2 separate regions of the Homo sapiens genome follow, and region 2 is linked to region 1. A link means that fine-mapping ties the variant in region 1 to the expression of a gene that starts in the linked region. Tissue or cell type: whole blood. Region 1 holds a variant in brackets; the other region holds the start of a gene. All regions are shown on one strand. Distances are between the middles of the regions.

The links. PIP is the estimated chance that this variant, and not a neighbour inherited with it, causes the effect.
Region 2: it holds the start of VWDE, and the variant in region 1 is fine-mapped to the expression of VWDE in whole blood (TOPMed, PIP above 0.99).

Annotation. Positions count from the first base shown.
Region 1 is chr7:12,287,275-12,295,386 of GRCh38, forward strand. No RefSeq gene overlaps it. Among named protein-coding and RNA genes, the nearest start is that of TMEM106B, 80 kb to the left of the region's middle. The variant T/C (reference allele first, on the strand shown) is at 3,530.
Region 2 is chr7:12,400,085-12,408,196 of GRCh38, forward strand. It overlaps VWDE (von Willebrand factor D and EGF domains), which reads right to left and starts at 3,781. Exons shown (of 29, transcript NM_001135924.3): 1 at 3,575-3,781. The coding sequence starts at 3,632. It overlaps LOC105375154 (a long non-coding RNA gene), which reads left to right and starts at 6,054. Exons shown (of 3, transcript XR_927035.4): 1 at 6,054-7,245; 2 at 7,454-7,572; 3 at 7,732-8,112. RefSeq lists enhancers at 3,069-3,636, 3,637-4,202 and silencers at 3,339-3,633, 3,527-3,576, 4,514-4,703.

The DNA of each region.
Region 1 (8,112 bases):
CTAGGTAGAGGGTGCTAAGTGAAAATTGCCATGTAAACTGCATGCTGCAAACAGTAGCGGTCTTCCTGTCTAGCCCACCACTCCTTGACTGCCCCATACGTAAGTCCTCCATAAACCCTATGTCTTTGTTCTTTGGGTCTGGGTCTCCTCTGTCCTCTTGGACATAGTGCCATCCCCATTGGAGTCAGTAGGGGTTAGTCACAACCGTGTGATGTTTAATTCATACTCATATATGGTTTTCTGTATTTATCAATTAAATATATTTATAAAGAAACTAAATATTAAAAACATTCTTTTAATCACCAGTGGAAATAAAAAGTGAAAAAGAGCTATTAAAACACATTTCAAAGCTAACTATTAAGGTTACAATTTTTAATATAAAGATACTGCTTTTAAATGTAAAATTCAATGAATTTATGCAAAAAATTTTCAAAGCTTAAAAGAAAAATTTAACAAAAGTTATGTTCATATTAGAAAGGACAGCATAAATTTAACAAAAATAACTGTCATAAGTTTCTGAGAACTTTTCTAGGATTTTGAAACCTAACTCATCAGATAGGGCTTCAAAATACAGAGCTTTGTATATGAAGTAGAAATTTATCCTGTAGATGAAGGGAACATCTGGGCAGACTCAGATGAAAACAGAATGCCACAATCAGCTTATAATACAAGCCAATTCAAATGGAAAGAGGCTATTCTCAAAAAAGAAAACCCATTTTGAGAATAAAGGAACATACTCAAAACCTACAATTTATTCTTAATGATGCCTCATTTTTCATTTGCTTTATAGCAGCCTTCTACCCCGGGGCAAAGACTGACAGACTATTCCTTAGTACCTTAATTTTAGCTGTCCCCTTAACTATGACTCTGGGGCTGAAATACATAAACAGGGCAATAAATCAGAAGGAACAAAGAACCTTTAAGACTATAAGGCAGTGGGAGGAAGGAAAGTATGTTGAACAATTCCCTTTACATGTGTCCTTAATAATTGATAACAGGTGTCTAGTTTACTGAGTCCAGTTACACATTTTTTAGACAGATCTATTGTTTATGTTGTTCCCTGTCTAAGCAATACAGAGAGTGCTGTTTCACATTCCCTTCGTGTTATAATCTAGTCAATTCACTTAAAATTAGAATAAATTGCATTTGGTTTTAGAAATATTCATATTTGCCATTTCCTCTGCACATTGAAAATATATAATTTTGTTGGTTTAAAGTGTTGAGGCTCAAAAACTGAAACCACCTTTGCAAAAATTATACAGAAAATTATGACAGTGAAATAGGTCTGACTTAACTGACTTCATCTTGCTTCTAACCTCTAACTGTCCTTGTTCATTCCTGGGTGTAGGCCGAACTAACTTTGGGAGGGACTTAGTTTATAGTTTAACTTTGAAATGACAATAACAGCTTTTTCTCAAAACAAATCCCCTTCCTGCCTGGGGATTAAACTGCCTTTGCAGGACTAACAAATTAGCTACAAGATTAGAAGTTATGGTTTAGGACTCATGCAGCTAGAGGCTGCAAGATTTTGAACCTTTCCAAATTGCTCGTGGGGGTAACATCACTATTGTTAAACCTAAGATTAGTGCTTGAGATCTTTTGCAGACACTGCATTAGATGGATAAGCTGGCATCACTCAGATTGCTAACTGTCTCAACTTGTCTTGCGACCCCCACCCAGGAATCAACTTATCAGAAGAGGACAGCATTGACTCCCTATGATTTCATCAATGACCTGACCAATCAGCACTCCCTACTTTCCATCCCCCTACACACCAAATTATCCTTTAAAACCCTGATCCCTGAGTTTTTGGAAGACTGATTTGTGTTGGGTGATGTACCAGAGCCCCAGCAATGGAAAGTGACTGGCTCGCAGATAGTAAAAAGAATTTACCCACAATGGTATAGTTTTGGAAAGGAAAGTTTTATTGAAAGAAAGAAAAGAAAGAAAGAAAGAACACTGCAGAAGAGTGCAGCAGGGCATCTCAGCAAGAGAGGAGTAAGTGTGTCACAGTGGATTTTTACTTAGCAGTATTTTACGGACCTTAAAGTGGGATCTTAAGGGTAATTTAGACCATATCAGCAGCCATGTAGATCATGATAAATGATTACACTTGTAGACATTTTGGTGTCTCGATGATAGCAATAGGAGACAGTTAAATTCCTAGGCAGACGAACAGGTCCCTGTTGAACCCTGATCTTCAAGCCAAAGACAGCCTGATGCCTGAAAACTGAGCTTCCAGTTCCAGGTAGAGTACATGACCAGAGTAAGAACCTCCTCGATGTCTTTTAGCCAATCGAATGGTGCTTTTTCCAGGCCTGCCCACGAACCAATCAGCATGCACTCCCCAATTCTGAGCCCATAAAAGCCCTAGACTCAGCCTCACAGGTGACTACCTGCTTTTGGGCCCCCTCTCACACACAGAGGTACCCACTTCTGTTCCCCTCTCATGTCAAGAACTTTCCTGTCACTCAGTAAAATTCTTCTCAGCCTTGCTCACTCTCTGCTGTCTGCATACCTCATTCCTCTTCATCATGGGGAAAGAACCTAGAACCTACCAAGTTGTGGGTGTGAAAAGAGCTATAACATGCACTCCCACTCACCAACCTATGGGAGTGAAAAAAACTGCTGGGTGCCATACGCCCCCATTCACTGAACTTCAGGCAGTGGGACTGAATGAGCTGTGACACACCCCCATTCACTGAGCCGCAGGCAGCAGGACCGAAGGAGCTGTGATATGGCCCCATTCCCTGAGCTGCAGGCCACAGGAACAAGAGTAAGCTGTAACACTTCTTGGGGACTCAGACCTCGGGACTCCCTGGGCGAGAGCTGTAACACCCCTTGGGGCTCTATGGTTGTTGGCATATCCAAATTTGGGGCACCACCATGTTCCTCTCATCCAGATGCCGGTGCCCAAGGTGGAAGCTGGTCACAGCCTGCCCAGTCCAGCCACAGGCTGAATGTGGATCTCATGGCGGGCACAAGATCTGAGCCATTGCATGAGCCAAGCTCAGCCTCCAGGGCTGAGTGGGTGGAGTGAGCCCAGTGGGCCTCAGTGAGGCTTCAGGAAGAGGTCACAGCAGCTGCAGAGATTTCCGGCTGGCAGAGCAGCACTGAAAAACATCCTGTAACATTTCCAGGGGCTCATCTGGGATTGGCAGAAGGGTGAATAAGAGTGGACCTCTTTCACTTTCATTCCAAGGCTTCTTGTATGGAGATTTTTTTTTTTCCAAAAACAGATGAGGCATTGGGCCTCTGTTAGCCAGTTAAGAGTGAATGGCATGTCTTCAGAGGACAGGCTTGCTGGGGAGGGGTTTGTCAATCACCCATCGCCCTTGGGTGTTGGGAATGTTGGCTTTGCTTCAATCCAGTTTTCTTCATGGAGGTCTAGCCATTGCATGGAATTGGAAGGAAGTTCTGGGGCAATTATCTGGCTGAGGCTATACTTTGATGTTACCCAAAAGGCCACTGGACTGACTCCAGTCACCAACATCCCATTAGGGTGTTGGTGTTAGGACCTCCAGTCTTT[T/C]CTATGGCATTATCCTTCTTTCTTTCATGGCTTTAGTGGCTTTTATCTTTTCTTTATATATTAATACAATGTTAAGGGTGTTGTTGCAAAGCACAGAGATAATATAAGTGGGTAGAATGTGCATTTGGCTTAGTCATCAGGAGCGTAATTCAGAACAATGTGTTTTCTGTCTATTCTTAGAAGCAAGGAGGATGTAATGATTGAGAGTTTTCTTTCCCCTGTTGAGGAAACCCATTAGCATAGGGCAAGAGGCTACTTTCCCCCAGGCACCTTCCCTCCCCTGCATTTAAGGTTTTTATTTTTTCCCACCATGTCAGTAGTCAATATAGTCCTGTGAATACAGGGAGCTTTTCTATGTGAGGGATTAATTTTTTCCTTTTGGGAGACATCTTATTAGGCCCCAATTCCTGGGACTCGCTTTCTGTCCCTTGTTTGAGGAGCATCTGGTTTTACAGCTTCACTTTAACATCACTCCAGTATATTTTCCAAGCTTTGGAGTCCTGAGGGACCCAGAGGCAGTCAACAGCAGAAGACTAGAGTGCAGCGCAAGCGAGCACGACTACTGCTGCTGACTACTCCTTACCATTTCATGGGTGAAGAACTTGCTCACATTCATAGCACAGATGGGGTCTAGCAAACCCAAAGGTTACCGACAGCAGAAGGCTAGGGCACAGCATAGGTAAGTGCGACTACCCCTACTAACTATGCATTCCCACTTCATTGGTAGAGGTCACACTTGTATTCATGCATGGCACCTATAGAAGCTGCCACAACTCAGGGAAGGAAAGGGTGGCACCTATAGAGGTTGCCAAGACTTGGGGAAGGAAAGGACACTTTTTTTTTTTCCTCACATGCCCTGGGTTTTCACTGAAAGAGAGAAAGGAGCTAAGGGATGCCTTTTACCCTCTCTTTCAAATGGGTAACAAACCATTTTCAGCCTGTACTCCTTTTGAGTGCATCCTGAATCACTGGGAGTCCTTTGACCCTCAGATTAAAAAAATGCCTTATGTTCCTTTGCACTAGGGCCTAGCTGGGTTATAAGTTGCAAAGGGCAATTCCAAACCCCGGAGGTGCCTCCAGCTGGGGAGTCAGCTAAAGCCTTTAACCCAATATTTTTCCTCACCTCTTAGTTGTAGTTCAGGAGACCTCATGTTTACTCAAGACTTTTAAATCATACCTGAAAGCCCAACTCCTCTGCTGAGTATGGATATATTAGCTCATATGGGAACCACCATCCTTATGGCTCTGGGACAGACTCTTTGTCTCCTCCTAGTGGAGACCAACGTTAACCCAGAAGTTTGGGCAACTCAAGGGAAAATTGGCAGAGCCACAACTGCCATGCCAGTCTGGATCCATCTTAAGGACCCTACCTTCTTCCCTAATCAGAGATAATATCCCTAAAACCAGAAATTAGAAATGGGCTAGAAGCCACCATTGATAACTTGAGGATGCAGGGCTTCTTCAAACCCTGAAACAACCCTTTTAATACCCCAGTACTGGAGGTACGTTAACCCAACAGAGAGTGGAGACTGGTCCAGGACCTCTGCCTCGTTAATGAGGCTGTGGTTTGAATTCACCTGGTGGTTCCCAAACCCCTATACCCTGCTTACTCAAATACCTAAGGGAATTAATGGTTCACAGTCTATGACATAAAGGATGTCTTTTTATGCATACTGTTACACCCCAACTCCCAATATTAGTTTGCATTCAAGGATCCATTCAACCAGACCACTCAGCTAACCTATGCAGTGTTACCTCAGGGATTGTGAGACAGCCCCCACTTGTTTGAGCAGGAGTTGTCAAAGTATCTCTGAGTTCTTTTATTCTCAGGTTAAAGTTTTACAATATGTAGATCACATTTTCCTTTGTGCCCCAGCTGAGGAAATCTCTGAGGAGGATAATAAGGCTTTTCTTAATTTTCTGGCTAACAGAGGATATAAGGTCTCAAAATCTTAAGGCTCAGCTCTCTCAGACTTCAGTGAAGTACCTAGGTCTAGTCTTGTTAGAGGGGACCAGGGCAGTAGGGGAATAAAGAATTAAGCCCATCTCCTCCTTTACCCTCCTCAAAACCCTCAAGCAACTGAAGGGATTCTTGGGCATTACAGGATTCTGCAGATTATAGATACCTGGGTATGGAGAAGTAGCTCATTCCTTATATCACCTATTAGGGAGACCCAGGCAGCTAAGACTCACTCCCTAATTTGGGAACAAGAGACTAAAAGGGCCTTTGACCAATTCAAAGAAGCCTTGCTTGAGGCACCTGTCCTTAGTCTTCCCATAGGAGAGACTTAATCTTTATGTATCACAAAGGAAGGAAATGGCCCTGAGAGTTCTAACCTGGGCCTGAGGTTCAGCCCAGCAGCACATAGGCTACTTAAACAAGGAGCTTGGTTTGGTAGCTAAAGGATGGCCAGCCTACCTCTGGGCAGTTGCAGCAGTAGACTTGCTGGTACCAAAGGCTACTAAGTTAACCATGGGAAATAACATAACGATTTATACCCACGTAATGTGGCAGGACTGCTGTCTCCTAAGGAGAGTCTCTGGCAAATGGACAACTGCCTCCTCAAATATCAAGCTCTGCTATTAGAGGGATCTGAAGTCCAGTTAAGAACCTGTCCATCCCTAAACCCAGCCACCTTCCTCCCAAAGGAAGCTGGGGAGCTTGAATATGACTGCAAACAGACAGTAGCACAAACCTATGTGGCCAAGGAGTACCTCAAAGAAACCCCCTTAGAGAACTCAGACTGGACTCTCTTTACGAACAGAAGTTCTTTTGTAGAACAAGGGATCCATAAAGGAGGGTATGCAATAGCCTGAATGACACTGCTGAGAGCGTGCCTGTCCTCAGGCACAAGTGCTCAACTAGCTGAGCTAATTGCCCTCCTGAGGGCACTTGAATTAAGCAAAGGGAAAGCAGTTAACATTTATGCTGAATCTAAGCATGCTTTCCTAGTCCTCCATGCCCATGCCACTATCTGGAAAGAGATGGATTTCCTCACAGCAAATGGGTCTTCCATTAAATACCATCAGGAAATTAACAGACTATTATTCTCAGTTTTCCTCCCATGGGAAGTGGCAGTAACACATTTTAAAGGCCACCAAAAAGGGATGAATGAAATAGCTGAAGGAAATAAGTTGGCAGACCAAGCAGCTAAATTGGCAGTGAGAGGGCCCCAGATATCTGATCCACTTGAGGTCCCTCTGATCTGGGAGGGCTCCACAAGAGAAACAAAACCTCAATATTCTCCTGTGGAAATAGAATAGGCCACCTCTCAGGGATACGCCTTTCAGTCCTCAGGATAGCTACAATCAGAAGATGGCAAACTTCACCTTCTTCAGCTTCCAGCCAATGGAAAGTTCTTAAAATCTTTCACAAGCCTTCTACCTAGGTAAGGATAAAACATATCATTGGCCTAGAGGTTGTTCTCAGGTAAAAATCTGCTAAAAATAGTGAAATAGGTCATTAATGCTTGTGAGACTTGCCTTAAAAATAATCTCAATTGACAGCTTCTCCCCCCTGGAACCCAAGAATGGGAGGCTACCCAGGGGAAGACTGGAAGATGAATTTCACCCATATGCCAAAGATAAGGGACATCCAGTACTTCCTGGTATGGGTAGATACCATCATTAACTGGATAGAAGCATTTTTATGTTGAGCAGAGAAAGCCTATGAGGTGATGAAAGTACTAATTAATGAGATAATTCCCCACTTTGGACTCCCAATGTACCTCCAGAGTGATAATAGTCCCTTGTTCAAGGTAGCTGTAAGCCAGGAGTCTCAAAGGCACTAGGCATACAATACCATCTTCACTGTGCCTGGAGACAACAATCCTCAGGAAAGGTATAGAACACTAATGATACTATCAAAAGGCACTTCAGAAAACTGTCTCTCAAGACACTCATCTCCCTGGATTACTTTTCTTTCCAGAAATGTTCCTTTGAAGCTGGGTTTAATCCCCTTCAAAAAGATATATAGATGGCCTTTTCTCATTAATGATTTCTTGCTAGACCAAGAAACCTCTGGTTTGATTAAATATGTAACTTCTTTGGCCCATTTCCAACAGGAACTAAAACTGTCGGAAGCCCAACCTCATGAACTAGGGCTACTTCTGTTCAACCCATGGGACTTAGTTCTGATCAAGGCACTTCCTTCCTTTTCTCTCTCTCTACGCCCATGTTGGGAGGGATCTTACACTGTACTTCTTTCTACTCCTTCAGCAGTGAAAGTCACTGGAATAGATTCTTGGATTCATTATACTTGAGTAAAGACCTTGGAAAGTGACTTTCCTCTGTTGACCCAGAGGAGCACCCGAAGCACCAGTGTGAAGAAATTGGAGACCTCAAGCTAAAGATCACAAAACATAAGTGTCACTAACATTTTATGGATATCCTCTTTATAGTCTCACCTATGCTTGCTGTTCTTGCCTTCATTCTATTCCTCACCATAAGGCATCTTTGCCAAAAATCCCTTAATCCTGAAAGCCCATGGCATTATCTACTCCCCTAAACAGCTATCTCTTTTCTGAAGTTTAGCTTCCCTACCCCCATTAAAGACTTACTTTCACCAGGGTGAAACAGCTCTG
Region 2 (8,112 bases), 110 kb after region 1:
ACATGTATAGACAGGAATATGCCTATAGTATAGGAGAAAAAGATGAACATCAAGTTAACCTTGCACCTTAAGACACTGTAAAAATAAGAGCATTCTAAACCTAAAGGAAGCAGAAGGAAGGAAATTTTAAAGATTGGATATAAAATTGATGGAACTGAGTATAGAAAAACAATAGAGAAAAATCAGTGAAACCAAAAGCTGGTTCTTTGAAAGAATCAACAAAACTGACGGACCTCTAACTAGATTTATGGAGAAAAGAAGAGAGAAGATTCAAATGACAAGAAGCAGGAATGAAATAGGGGACACTACTGAAAACCTTATTAAGGAATACTATGACTGCTATATGCCAATAATTATAGATAACTTAGATGAGATTGACAAATTTCTAAAAAGACAGGAGCTGCAAAACCAACTCAAGAAGAAAAATACAATCCAAATAGATTTATAACAAGTAAAAATATCAAATCAGTCAAAAAACTACCCACAAAGAAAAGACCTGGCCCAGATGGCATCAATGCTAAATTCTACCAAACATTTCAAAAAGAATTACCACCAATTTGTCTCAAACACTTTCAAAAAATAGAAGAAGATGGAACACTTTCCACCTCATTGTACGAGCCCGGTATTATAGCCCATTATCCTGGCTACCCCGACAGGAAAGCCAGAAATATATATAACAAGAAAAGCTGACTATAAACCAATACATCTCTGGAATATGAGTGAAAAAATTTTCAGCAAACAGAATCCAGGAACATAAAGCATACATATAGAAAAATTATGACCAAGTGAGATTTATTCCAGGAAAACAAGGTTGGTTTAATAACTAAAATCGAATTACTATAATAAACCACATAGATAGCATAAAAGCTGAAATCCACATGTTCATCTCAACAGACACAGGGAAAGCATTTTTAAAAATCCAACACCTTTTCATGATAAAAACACTCAACAAACTAGGAATAGAAGGAAGTTTCCTCAACTTGATAAAGGATATATACGAAAATCCCATAGCTTACATTTTATGTGATGAAGAAAGACTAGATGCTTTCCTATAAAATCAGGAATAAGACAAGTATGTCTACTCTCACCTTTTCAATGCCACATTGTACTTTAGAATAGCTAATTCTACCCAGGGGGATTAACCAAAATAAATAAATAAAAGATATCCAGATTGGAAAGGAATAAGTAATACCATCTCCATATAGAAAATTCTAAGGAATCAACTAAAAAAACTAAAGTATAGTAGCCCCTCAGTATCCACAGGGGATTATTTCCACGACCCACAGAATGGGAGAAAATAATTGCAAATCACATATCCAATAAGAAAATTATATCTGGAATATGCAAATAACTTATACAACTCAATAAGAAAAAGGCCAAGTACTCATTTTTTAAAATGGCAAGATCTGAGTATTTCTCTGAAGAGAATAAGCAAATTTCTCATAAGGGCATTAAAATGCTTGACATCATTAGCCATTAGGAAAATGACAATCAAACTACAATGAAATACCACTTCACAACCACGAGGATAGGTAGAATCCAAATCTCAGTTAATAAAAAGTGTTGATGGAAACATGAAGAAGTTAGAAGCTTTACACACTGTTGCAGAAATACAAAACAGCACAGCCACTTTGGAAAACATCCTGGCTGTTCCTTAAGTAGTTAATCACAGAGTTACCCTATGACCCGGTATTTCCACTCCTAGGCATATATCTCGGAGAAATGAAAACATACATCCAAACAAAACTTGTACCTCGGTGCTTTATAGCAACATTATTTATAATAGTCAAAAGGTGGAAACAACTCAAATGTTCATCAACAAATGAATGTACATACAAAATATAGTATATCCACACAATGGAACATTATTCTATCTTAAAAAGGAATGAAATACTGGTACATGCTACAAGATGAATGAACCTTGATAATACTGTGCTAGATGAAGTAAGCCAGTCACAAAAGACAACCTATTATATGATTCAGTTTACATAAAATATCCAGAATAGGCAAATGCAATGAGACAGAAAGTAGATTAGTAATTCCTTATCGCTGGGGAGAAAGGGAGGGTGATAGCCGGCATGCGGCATGATAGCCCAGGGTATAGTATTTCTTTCTGATTGATAAATATGTTCTAAAATTGACTGTGGTCATCGCTGCATATACCTGTAAATATACTCTGAATATACACATATCTGTGAAAATGAAAAACCATAGAGTCGCACACTTTGAGTGATTTGTATGGTATATGAACATCTTAATAAAGCTATTTGAAAAAAAGAAGTCTCAATAAATGCATTTTCCATTTACCTCGTCTTCTAGTTTTACTCCATTAAACATAAAGAACTTGACAATGTTACCAATGTTATGAACTTAAAACCTGGTAATGGGTAATATTTGTCTTCAGCAGAGAGATTACAAAGCTATTATATAGAGGCAAAAAAGGGTTATGCGGTCTATAGTAAACATGAAATCATCTTCCTTTATAAACATTGGTCATTTTTTTCCTGGAAATATTTATCTAACTGTAATGAACAGATATATGTTATTACATGTATTTTTTAAAGTTATTCATAAAGATTTAGTAACGCTGTAAGCAAACCAAAGAAGGACCAGAAAAAATATCATTGCAGAAAATAATAAATTTGATTTTAGTATTTTATTTTTAAGTTTTGTATAGGATAGTGTTTGTATTCCCCTTATACAAAGCAAACTTACATCAGTAAAATGAGTTAAGATCAAAAAATGATAAGACAAAACTATACCCTGGACTGCTATAAATGTTGTACATAATGTTTTTTCAAGCTGCAGATGGTTGAACACAGATCAGACTTTTTCTGAAAAACGTAAGGAAACTTGCAATATAAGAACAAGTCACCTTTCATTAATATTCCTATCTGTATGAACACAAAAAACAAGCAAAAAGGGCTAATGAAAGTAGTTTTGGTTTAACTTCACTGTATTTTAAACTAAATGTTCTTTGTCATGGATTAAAGAAGTAGGAGGGGAGTATTCGCTCCACAGAGATCTCTTTTACAGTGCCAAAACTGATTCTAACATATATATACAAAAACCATAATACAGTATAATACGGATATACAAAACTTAACTTGGTGATTTATTGTAGGGATAAAATGTTCACCAATGAATTATTTCTGAGGGTCCGGTTGGAGGTGGAATTCGTGCAGTATGGAATTCAACTCTGTTCTGAGAATTCAGGTCCACTTGCGGCTAGCATACCTTGCAGATCCGGCGAAAGTTTCTTACAGTAAATTACAATGACCTCAAAGAGCAGGATAACAGCAGGAAACAACCAAAAACAGAACCAAGGGTCGTAGAGTAAGAGGAGGCAACAACCGCATGTGCGCAAAAGAAAAGTGTAGAGTTTTCAAGCTGGAAATTGACCTTTTCAAAGACAGCAGAGGGACAGAGAGGAGGCGGGTGAGGAACAAACATCGCTTGCTGCCTTAAAACGCACAGGGACGCTCCCCAAGTCGTCCAAAAAGTCTAGCCTAGTCCCTCTACCGCCCACGCGGCGCCACTGCGCGCCCACCCCCGCGCGCCCTACCTCGCTTACCTTCCCCCCAGGCCAGGAACATCAGCGCGATCACCAGCACGCAGGCTCCGCCAGGCATCGCTGCTTCCGCAGGTGGGGCGAAAGGCGTCGCAGAGCCCGGGCCGCGGGTGCCAGGAGGATGGGGCCACAGCAGCCCCTCGGGCCTCCTTTCTTGGATTTTCTCAGTCTGTTGCTGCTTGGAACAGGGAAGCTCCGCGTCCTCGTTCTGGGGTGCACCCAGTCCTTTCGTGGGATAGAGCCTTCGCGTAATCCGTCTGCGACTCCTCCCTTCCCATTTTGGCTGCTGGCTGACCTGAAAGCCACGCCCAACCTGTCCCCATAGCCCAGCGTGTACCGGCAGTGGCTCCGCCGCCTTGGATGTCACCGTGCAGTCGCACAGCCAGGAGTCAAGCTACAGGGATGTAGCTCTCCGCCCGCTGCGTCTTGCTGTTCTAACAGAGGCTGTATGAAAACTTGGTAATCCTAGAAACTGCTCAGATGGACCTCGCATAAAAGAAGCCTCACAAGGTTCCGTTGGAAGGGGAAGTTTCCCATGATTGTATCTGCAGACGGATTCCTAACTGCGTAATGGGCGCTACTGGTTTGCACCCCAAGGCGAAGGCGCTGAAAATGCTCCTGTCACCTTAGATCTCAGTGATGAACGACAGGAGGAGGAGTAGACACTAACGTTGCAACAGTAGATGCCTTTTCTTCTGCCTCTGTGACAGGTTTTCAGAAGTGGAAAGGACCGCATTTAGACACTAGCCAAACCATGAGGTTTGTCACCTGTATTTGCCAGTGATTCCCAGAGCTCTTACAGTTGTCCCAGGACGCTTTAGCACATGGCCACACGACTCCCAAGGTTGACCTGGGAGTTATTAGAAGATCAGAGGGCTCTAATGTCTTCCCCCAACCTCGTTTTTGTTTTGTTTTGTTTTGTTCGAGACAAGGTCTCACTCTGTCACCCAGGCTGGAGTGCAGTGGCACAGTCACAGCTCGCTGGAGCCTTGAACTCCTGGCGTCAAGCGATCTTCCCCCTCAGTCTCCCAAAATGCTGGGATTACAGGCGTGAGCCACCGTGCCAGGTCTAAGGTCTTCAGAAGTGTGGTTGCCTCTGCAGAGGAACAGGGTCCTTTTTTCAACTGATTCTACATCTTTTTATGTCTGAAAATGAAACCTCACTGTCCTAGTTTTTCCCTGGCTGTCTCATTCCTTGAGTCTCCCATCCATCACCTTGCACTTGGTTCTCACAGAGCCTTTACCTGAAGAGGATAGTTTGGGGGTCCAAGTGGGCACCAAGGTTCCACCCACAAATTTGGAGGTTCAAGGTTGGCCTAGGCATGGTGGTGGAAACAGGAGGTGTCCAAATGCATAAACAAGTATTTTTTTAATTTCATATAATTCTTTATTTTTAATTTGAAAGGTAAATTACCATTTAAAATTTTAAAGCTTATCATCTCCATAGTAAAAATATTAACCCATATTGGAAATAATTTCTTTTTGGTACACAATACTTGTGTGTAGCCATCTTTCAAATGCAGCAAGGGCACCCAATTTTCTGGATTAAAAATAAAATATTACTTTTTGGTGGACGGTAGACAGGTGATTTTTATCTTAAGGCTTAAGTATGGAAGGGCAATATAATGTAGGCACAATGAAAACCCAGAGATTTCTTAGTGTACAGTTAAGTCTTTTGTTTCCGCTTAAAAAATTCTAATAAAACAGACAAGAAATTAAATGTCAGTTTTCTCAATCTATTTGTGAAATCACCAGGAACAAAGTAATTTGATGTGAATCAAATCATAGCAGGACTTTTGTGAATTTATTTTCTAGCAGTATCTATACAAATGTAGTAAACTTTTATACTTTCTTGGAGGACAACATTACTTATCTGACTTCCATCAAAATACAATTTCAGGTATCGTGGGCCTTATTTTTTTCTTCAGTTTTTGATTGTTTATGAGTTTATGAGTTTACAATAAACTTGTGCCAAAACCCAACTTCCCTCCATGTGACTAAAGATGGAAAAAACTAAAAGCAACTTAAGAATTTTTTTTCAAGTCTCAGTAACCTGGCTTGGATCTGCAAGAATGTATCAATTAAATGCTGGTTATATCACGCCTGTAATCCCAGTGCTTTGGGAGGTCGAGGCAGGCGGATCACCTGAGGTCAGGAGTTCAAGACCAGCCTGGCCAACATGGTGAAACCCCATCTCTACTAAAAATACAAAACATTAGATGGGCGTGGTGGCGTTCGCCTGTAGTCCCATCTACTCGGGAGGCTGAGGCAGGAGAATCGTTTGAGCCCAGGAGGCAGAGGTTGCAGTGAGCCAAGATAGCTCCTCTGTACTCCAGCCTGGGCGACAGAGCAAGATTCCATCTCAAAAAAAAAAAAAAAAAAAAAAAAAATTAGTTATAGAACTGTATGGAAAACAAAAAGTAATGAAAATGTTTTAATCTATGTCTCGTGAAGTTAATCAAAAATTGGTATAAGATTCTTTTTTATATTTTTGAACATTAAAAACAATGGATGCATGGTACCCCGCAATATAGAGACTGACAGCACTTGTAAAATGCAGTAAATATCACTGAGACAAATAATAAGAATGTCAGAGGGAAGAAGAAATGAAGCCAAGTGCTAATAAGTACAATATAGCTTAAATTAAAAGATTAACAGGAGAAAATTTTCAAATGATAATTTTCTAGGAAAAGGAGATAACTCAGTTTTTGTCAGGTTAATTTACAAAGTGATGGGCTTGAGTGAAAAAAAATACCAAATTCAAGGGGCAGAAAAACCCAGTGATTAAGTCCACAAATCCTAGGTTAAAAACACCTGGGCTGTAATTCTAGATCTGCTACCTATTTATCAGAAGTGTAACCTTGAACAGCACACTCAACTCCTCTTAACCTCATTTTTCTGTACAATAGAAATGACAATAATAGTACCCCATAGACTTAAAGAATCAAAAGTGTATGTGCATGCCTGTGTGTGGCTGGGAGCGTGGAAGAGCATCTGGAGAAAGAGCACTCAGAATAGCATTTGGTCCAAAGTAGCTATTATGGTCGAATGTAACAGTTTACTGTTATTAGAACTAGGGTAATATTCTACATAATTATACTTTCTCTTATGTCTTATTATATAAAGGTGCATCATTTCTTGGCACTACTCTATTACAGTGTCTGCACAGTTTGGAGTAACCTTCCTGGAAAATACATATTTATGTAACATATGAATTCCTCATCCCATGTTTTACTAAATGAGTGAGCCCTTTTCCAGAAATGTAAAATTGATAGGATTGCTTCTGGGGTTTACTTGAGCTGAACACAAGTACACTCAGAAGCAGAGGCTAAAACATACAGCAGGTCCTTGGTCATTTTGTTTAACGTTATTTTGTTATAACACTGATGGAAAAAATCGATTTCCAGCAGAGGCCAATGTCTATGTGGAATTGGCACGTTCTTTCCATGTCTATGTGGGTCTTCTCTGGGTACTCCCGTTTCCCTCCACTTCTCAACTCTCTGTGTGTTGGGTGAATTGGCATGTCTACATAGGCCCTGCTTGAGTGATTGTGGTTGGGTATGTGAGCGCGCCCTGCGGTAGGATGGCTTCCTGAAGAGAGCTGGTTTACACCTCATGCCCTGAGCTCCTGGTGTAGGATCTGGCCACCTGTGATCCTGAACTGGAGTAAGGAGGTAAATAATTATCTTGTTTTCATTAATCTTTACTCAATGTATGTATAGTTTATTTTACTGTTTAATATTAGAAGTATTTTGGTCTTTTTTTAGAAGTTGGTGATGTTTTTGTGACCAGAAATATGGTATAGTAATTTAACTCATGTTGATATCAATTTGTCTGTAGTAAAACTGGTTTCATTACATGTTGTTTCACTTTACATCGCAGTTTTCAATAACCTATGGACACCGTTGAGGACTCATTGAATGTGGCTATAAGTGTGGTCAAGTAATGAAAACTGATCAGCTGAGGGAGGAAAAAGACAAAAGTGGATGACCAAAATGAAGGTGAGGTGAGAAACAACATGTGAGAATAGAGAAACAGAGAAAAGCACTCATACACGTCCACACGTGCACACACACACAAAAAGACAGAGAGGAAGAGAGACAGACAGACAGTGACAGAAAGAGAGATATGCTAATTCCTGATGGCTTTCCACTCAACAGCTCCAGAATCTTTCGAGGACTGCCTATGTTTCCTGTTTTGGATTAGGAAAATGTGGCACATATACACCATGGAATACTACACAGCCATAAAAAATGATGAGTTCATGTCCTTTGTAGGGACATGGATGAAACTGGAAACCATCATTCTCAGCGAACTATCGCAAGGATAAAAAACCAAACACCGCATGTTCTCACTCATAGGTGGGAACCGAACAATGAGAACACGTGGACACAGGAAGGGGAACATCACACTCCGGGGACTGTTGTGGGGTGGGGGTAGGGGGGAGGGATAGCCTTAGGAGATATACCTAATGCTAATGATGAGTTAATGGGTGCAGCACACCAACATGGCACATGTATACATATGTAACAAACCTGCAC